Homo sapiens: one gene and its partner. The protein of the gene in region 1 purifies or fractionates together with the protein of each later gene. This does not show direct contact. Each region holds a gene or a part of one and is shown in the gene's direction. Other genes may lie near its edges.

Region 1 (3,500 bases):
TGTTGACCCTGTAGACCTGTGAGAGGGTCTCAGGGACTCCAAGTCCACAGCCACACTTAGACAATCACTAGCTAATTCAAATCAAAGCATAATTATGTTTTCAAGGATTTTGATGTATACTGACAAATTTAAAAAAATTGTACTAGTCCTTTTACTAGCAGAGCGTGAGAGTCTCTGTCTCTGCAACTTTTCCAGTATTGAGAAGAGTCATTATTTAATCTTTAATATGTTCGATCAAGAATGACATCTTGTAGTTAGCATTTTAAAAATTATTATAGGTTGTACCTTTTTCCAAATTTTTTTGACCACTTAATTTTCCTTTGAATTACCTGTTTGGTATCCTTTGCCTAATTTTCTGTTGGCATGTCTGTTGTTATTGTTTATTGATTTATTACTTATTGATCTGCATATGTTCAGGATGCTGGTCCTATATATGTCATATTTGTTGCATAAATTTTCTCAGTTGTTTGATTTTAAATATTGTTCTGCTTTTGATATGGTTAACTTTTAAATGTATGCTTTTTTTTTCTGACATTTTTGCCTTTATACTTAGGAAGTTCTTTTCTGTCCTAATATATGAAAGAAAAAAATATTTCACCTAAATTTTCTTTTAGATTCTTTATGGCTTTGTTTTTTATTCTTAATTTTTAAATCTTTCTGGCTGAAATTTATTTTAGTAAATGCTGAGAGGTGAAGATGTAGCTTAATTTTTTCTCCAGCTTAATTTTTCCTCTTACTGTGACTTCTGGGGTAGCCTCACTTCTTCATGGCTTGTTTTGACTGAAGTTACAAAATTATGTTTTTTCAAGTCACTGTGTTTTACGTGGTCTCAGAATCCTTCACTTTAAAATGAAGGAGTAGGACTTTGTGATCTGTAATATCTTACAACTCCAAAATTCACCCTCATTCTATTTTCGTTTCTACAGTTTTACCATACAGTAAGTCATCATTTAATGTCTTCGGTAGGGCTTTGGAGACTGCAACTTTAAGTGAAACAATGTATAATGAGAGCAATTTTACCATATGCTAATTGTTATAAACAAGAATTAAGTTCCTATAGCATATTTCTGGTCATAATAACATCACCAAACTTCTAAATAAAGACCCAAGGCTGGGCACTGTGGCTCAAGCCTGTAATCCCGGCACTTTGGGAGGCTGAGGCGGGCAGATCACGAGGTCAGGAGATCGAGACCATCCTGGCTAACACAGTGAAACCCCGTCTCTACTAAAAATACAGAAAATTAGCTGGGCACGGTGGCGGGCGCCTGTAGTCCCAGCTACTCAGGAGACTGAGGCAGGAGAATGGCATGAACCTGGGAGGCAGAGCTTGCAGTGAGCTGAGATGGCGCCACTGCACTCCAGCCTGGGTGACAGAGCAACACTCCGTCTCAAAAAAACCATAAAAAATAAAATAAAGACCCAAAACACATCTAATATTAAACATTGAAATTAATGTGAGCCTAAACAAGTAAGATAATTATTTACCCAATTTTTGGTGAATCAGTGAGTGATGGTGGTCATAGTGGTGGTGGATTAAATCTAAGAGTATGTGTTTGCAAAGTGAAATTTGTGAGAAGCACCTCTTACCACCATGTATTCAAAAGCAAACAATAGCCTGTTCAACAGAGCGAGACCCTGTCTCTTCAAAAAAATTTAAAAATTAGCCAGGTGTGGTGGTACATGCTTGTAGTTCCAGCAACTCAGGATGCTAAGGTGAGAAGATTGCTTAAGCCTGGGAGTTTGAGGCTGCAGTGAGTTAGGAACGTGCCACTGCAGTCCAGCCTGAGCCACAACAGTTAGACTCTGTCTCTAAAAACAAAAAACAAAAAGCAAACAATAACAAATGTGGTGAGCTTGCTGAGCACTTGTGTACTGCATCTTTATTGTCATGCGTTTGTATGATTATCATAGATTTATGAATTTTTATTTTACAGTAATTTGTATTCATTCATTTATTCACTTATTCATTCATTTATTTACCAACCCGCTTATTCCAGTTTAGGATTCTGAGTGGCCTCTGGCAGCTCAGGCTGCAAGGTATGAAGCCATCCCAGCACGGGACACGCTCACACACACTCCCATACTCACTCACACTGGGGCTATTTAGACATGCCAGTTCTGCAGACACGTACATCATTGAGATGTGGAAGGAAACCAGAGTACTGGGAGAAAGTTCACGCAGACGTCAGGAGAACATGCAAACTCCACACAGACAGTGGCCCCAGCCAGGAAACAATTTTTAAAAATACTCATCAACTTTATAACAAAATAATGTTGAACAAAATAACGTTATTTGAAGACTTTCTGTAATGGGCCCTTTGGCACCTGAAACATAGGACATACTACATTTGAAGTACTTGCTGAGGACATATTTATTGATTGACATTTTTTAATCTTTCTTGTGGACATTCTTAGAAGCCCCTGGTCCAATCAGCTGTTACTTATAAGGTTATATTTTACATTATAATTTCCTGCCCAAACACTACATATATATTTGATTATTTGTTACTTTTGGGAGAGTTTTTGGGATAATTTTAAGCTTGCAGAAAAGTTGCAGAAATATTACAGAGAATTCTCATATACCCTTCACCCAGCTTCTCTTAATGTTAACATTACCATGGTACGATTGTCAAAATCAGTAAGTTAATTTTAATGCAATATCATTAATCTACAGACACATTTTTTGAACTTTGCTAGTTTTTTCACTGATGTCCCTTTTCTAGGATCACACGTTGGATTTAATTGTAATGTCTTAAGTCATTTCCAATCTGTGACAGTTTCTTACTATTTCTTTGTCTTTTATGATTTTGACACTTTTGAAGAGTACTGGTCAATTTTATAGAATGTCCTTTCCTTTGTGTTTGATGTTTATTTTCTCATGGTTAGATTGAGGGTAAACACTTTTGGCAAGAGTACCCTGGAAGTGATGGTGTGGCCTACTTAGTGCATTACATCAGGGTCTGTGACTTCATATGTCTTATTATTGGAGACGTTAACCTTATTCACTTGATTAAGGTGGTGTCTGCCTTGGTTTGTGCTCAGGAGCTGGTAGTTCTAATGTTACTTTTATTATTATTATTATTTTTAAATTCTGAAGCTCTTTAATAGCTTTATAATCAACAAATAAAACTAAAGGTGTTTTATAATAGGAAAATAATTTTGTGATATATGACAATGGCATTGCTTCATAAGGACAAGAAGAAAAATTGGAAGTGTACAGTAGAACTAGTATGTTTTACTATAGAGTCTTACATATGTATTACTTGAGAGTGGAAATATAACCATAACTTGCTAACCTGTACTGTGACTCACAAAACAGGCTCTACCTGACCAAACTACAATTACTGACTAAACCTGAACTCTTTTATCATGAGCTCATTCAGCCTTATGTGCTCAACCCATACTCATAAACTCTGTTCCAGAAACTGCCTAGTTGACAAAGTCTGACCAACATCTAGCAGGACCACCTCATGACTAGTTCCGGCTCCTAGAACCTTCGA
Region 2 (3,500 bases), on another chromosome or scaffold:
ATATTCTATGAGTTAAAATTCATTATCATCATTATTTTGTTGCTTACTGTTCCAGCATTGGCTATTTAGTTAGGATCTCCTTCAGGTTAGCTTCTGTGGCCTATCAACTGGCCCTCATTTTTTTTTTTTTCCTTCAAGCACTTACTTTATGGCACACCACAAGGTGTTCCAGGCTCATCTTGTGTTTTCTCTGACCCAACTCTGGAATCAGTTCTTTTTGTCTTTAGCCTATCCAGTCAAGATACCATTTTCTACAGTTACTTAGGTTAGTTCCTTTCTTCCTCATGCCTTTCAGAGTGGTTATGTTAGTTGTAATAGTTAGGTTCATTGTTAGTGTTTATATTTCATTTTGAGTTCCCCCTGCATCCTAGCTGATTTTAGTTGTTTTTGCGGTATGAATTATGACTGATTTCTGAGAGTCAGAGCTACACACAAAGGTATACTCAGAGAAGTGTCTTTCCCTTCTTATGCCTACTGCCCTGTTCCCATTCACCCCTTCTTTTCACCGCTTTCCCACCTACCCTGTATAGCTAACTTTGGTATCTGGATTATCTCGTGTTTCTTTCGCACAAGTGAACAGTTAGTTGTGTATTTTTTCACATCCTCTTCTTTCTTATACGAAGGTGACATGCTATATAGATAATTGTGTTTGCTTTTTTCACTTAATAGTATGTTTTAGGCCAGGCGTGGTGGCTCATGCCTGTAATCCCAGCACTTTAGGAGGCTGAGGTGGGCAGATTGCCTGAGGTCAGGATTTCAAGACTAGCCTGGCCAACATGGTGAAACCCCGTCTCTACTAAAAATACAAAAAAATTAGCCGGGTGTGGTGGTGGGCACCTGTAATCCCAGCCACTTGGAAGGCTGAGGCTGGAGAATCGCTTGAACCTGGGAGGCAGATGTTGCAGTGAGCCGAGATTGCACCACTGCACTCCAGCCTGGGTGACCGGCCGAGTGAGAATCCATCTCCAAAAAAAAAAAAAAAAAAAAAAAAGAATAGTGTGTCTTGAAAATCACCCCATATCTGTTCATAGAGATCTTCTTCATTCTTTTTTTTTTTTTGAGACGGAGTCTCGCTCTTTTGCCCAGGCCTGAGTGCATTGGCGCTATCTCGGCTCACTGCAAGCTCCGCCTCCCGGGTTCACGCCGTTCTGCTGCCTGAGCCTCCCGAGTAGCTGGGACTACAGGCGCCCACCACCGCGCCTGGCTAATTTTTTGTATTTTTAGTAGAGACGGGGTTTCACCGTGTTAGCCAGGATGGTCTCGATCTTCTGACCTTGTGATCCGCCCGCCTCAGCCTCCCAAAGTGCTAGGATTACAGGCATGAGCCACTGCGCCCGGCCCCTCATTAATTTTTAAAAACATCTTTATTGAGGCCAGGCATGGTGGCTCACGCCTGTAATCCCAGACTTTGGGAGGCTGAGGTGGGCAGATCATTTGAGGTCTGGAGTTTGAGGCCAGCCTGACCAACATGGTGAAACCCCTTTCTACTAAAAATACAAAAAAAATTAGCTGGGCATGGTGGTGCATGCATGTAGTCCCAGCTACCCGGGAAGCTGAGGCAGGAGTATCGCTTGAACCCGGGAGGCAGAGGTTGCAGAGAGCCGAGATCGCGCCACTGCACTCCAGCCAGGGCGACAGGGCGAGACCCGGTCTCAAGAAAACACAAACAAGCAAAAACATCTTTATTGAGATATAATTTACATACCTTACAATTGACCGATTTAAGTATACAATTGAGTGGTTTTTAGTACATACACAGTTATGCAAGCATCATCGCAATACATTTTAGAACATTTTTATCACCCTTAAAAGAAACCCTGATCCATTAGCAATTAGCAGTTACTTCCCATCCTGTCTTCCCCCAGCTCTAGGCAACCACAAATCCACTTTCTGACTTTATAAATTTGCCTGTTTTGGACATTTCATGTAAATGGGATCATACAATATGTGGTATTTTGTTACTGGCTTCTTCCACTTAGGATAATGTTTTCATGGTTCATCCATGTTGTCAGTGTTTCATTATTTTTATGGCTGAATAATATTCCATTTTATGGATATACCACCTTTTGTTTATCCATTTATCAGTTGATGGATTTTGGGTTTCTACTTATGCATTATTTTGAATTATGTTGCTATGAACATTGCCTCATTAATTTTTACAGCTGCATAGTACTTCATTACATGAATGTACCATAGTATGTACCATAGTACGTTATAATAGTTTATTCATCTACTCTCCTATCTATGGCCATTTAAGCTGCTTCCATTATCTTGCAGTTACAAACAGTGCTGCACGGTGAATAATTCTGTGCATATGTATTTTTGTATTGTTGGAGGTACATATTCAGGGTAGTTTCTAGAAGTGGAATTGCTGGGTTGAAAGGTAAATGCATATGTAGTTTTCTCAGATATAGTCAAATTTCCCTCCAGAAGGGTTGTACCAATTTCCAACAGTGTATGAGAATAGCGCCTGTTTCTCCACAACCTCGCCAACAGTGTGTGCTGTCATGCTTTAATTTTTGCAGTGAGAAATAGTGTCTAGTGTTGTTTTGTTTTAATATGCATATCTCTATGAATGATTTGAACATTTTTTCATATGTTTTAGAGCTAGTTGCGTCTTCTTTTGTGATTTATCTGTTCGTATTTTTTCTCCATTTGTCTACCAGGTTTTTGTTTTTCTGTTCTTTAGCTTTTTAAAAAAAATTGTGATAAAATATAAGCAACATACAATTTATCTTTTTTTTTTTTTTTTTTTTGAGATGGAGTCTCCCTCACCAGGCTGGAGTGCAATGGCGCGATCTCGGCTCACTGCAACCTCCACCTCTTGGGTTCAAGCAATTCTCCTGCCTCAGCCTCCCGAGTAGCTGGGACTACAGGCGCGTGCCACCATGCCCAGCCAATTTTTTTGTATTTTTAGCAGAGACAGGGTTTCACTGTGTTAGCCAGGATGGTCTCCATCTCCTGACCTCCTCATCCGCCTGCCTCAGCCTCCCAAAGTGCTGGGATTACAGGCGTGAGCCACTGCGCCTGACCCAATTTATCATTTTAACCATTTTTTAAGTGTGCCATTTTGTGCCATTAAATACATCCACATTGTTATGCAGCCATCACCACCATCCATCTCCGGAACTTTTTTCATCTTTTCAAACTGAAACTCTGTATCCATTAAACAGGAATTCCCATTCTTCCCTCCCCTAGCCCTGTGGCCACTATTCTACTTTCTGTTTCTATGAATTTGACTACTGTAGGTACGTTATATACATGGAATCGTACAATATTTGTCTTTTTATGACTGGCTTATTCGACTTACTGTAATGTCTTCAAGGTTCATCCACGTTGTAGCATATTTCGGAATTGCCTTCTTTTTTGTGACATGTGTCAGGATTACCTTCCTTTTTAAGGCTGAATAATAAATGTTTCATTGTATGTATATACTACATTTTGTTTAGCCATTCATCTGTCATGAACAGTTGGGTTGCTTTCACCATTTTTTTTTTTTT

The links.
Region 2: the proteins of CDIN1 (region 1) and CABIN1 purify together in Homo sapiens (affinity purification with mass spectrometry, with the first as the bait; one large-scale study listed by BioGRID). This does not show direct contact.

What each region holds. Positions count from the first base shown.
Region 1 is NC_000015.10:36,582,626-36,586,125, forward strand, and holds part of CDIN1 (CDAN1-interacting nuclease 1), read left to right. Parts: intron 1-3,500. UniProt on the Homo sapiens protein: Plays a role in erythroid cell differentiation.
Region 2 is NC_000022.11:24,014,304-24,017,803, forward strand, and holds part of CABIN1 (calcineurin-binding protein cabin-1), read left to right. Parts: intron 1-3,500. UniProt on the Homo sapiens protein: May be required for replication-independent chromatin assembly. May serve as a negative regulator of T-cell receptor (TCR) signaling via inhibition of calcineurin. Inhibition of activated calcineurin is dependent on both PKC and calcium signals.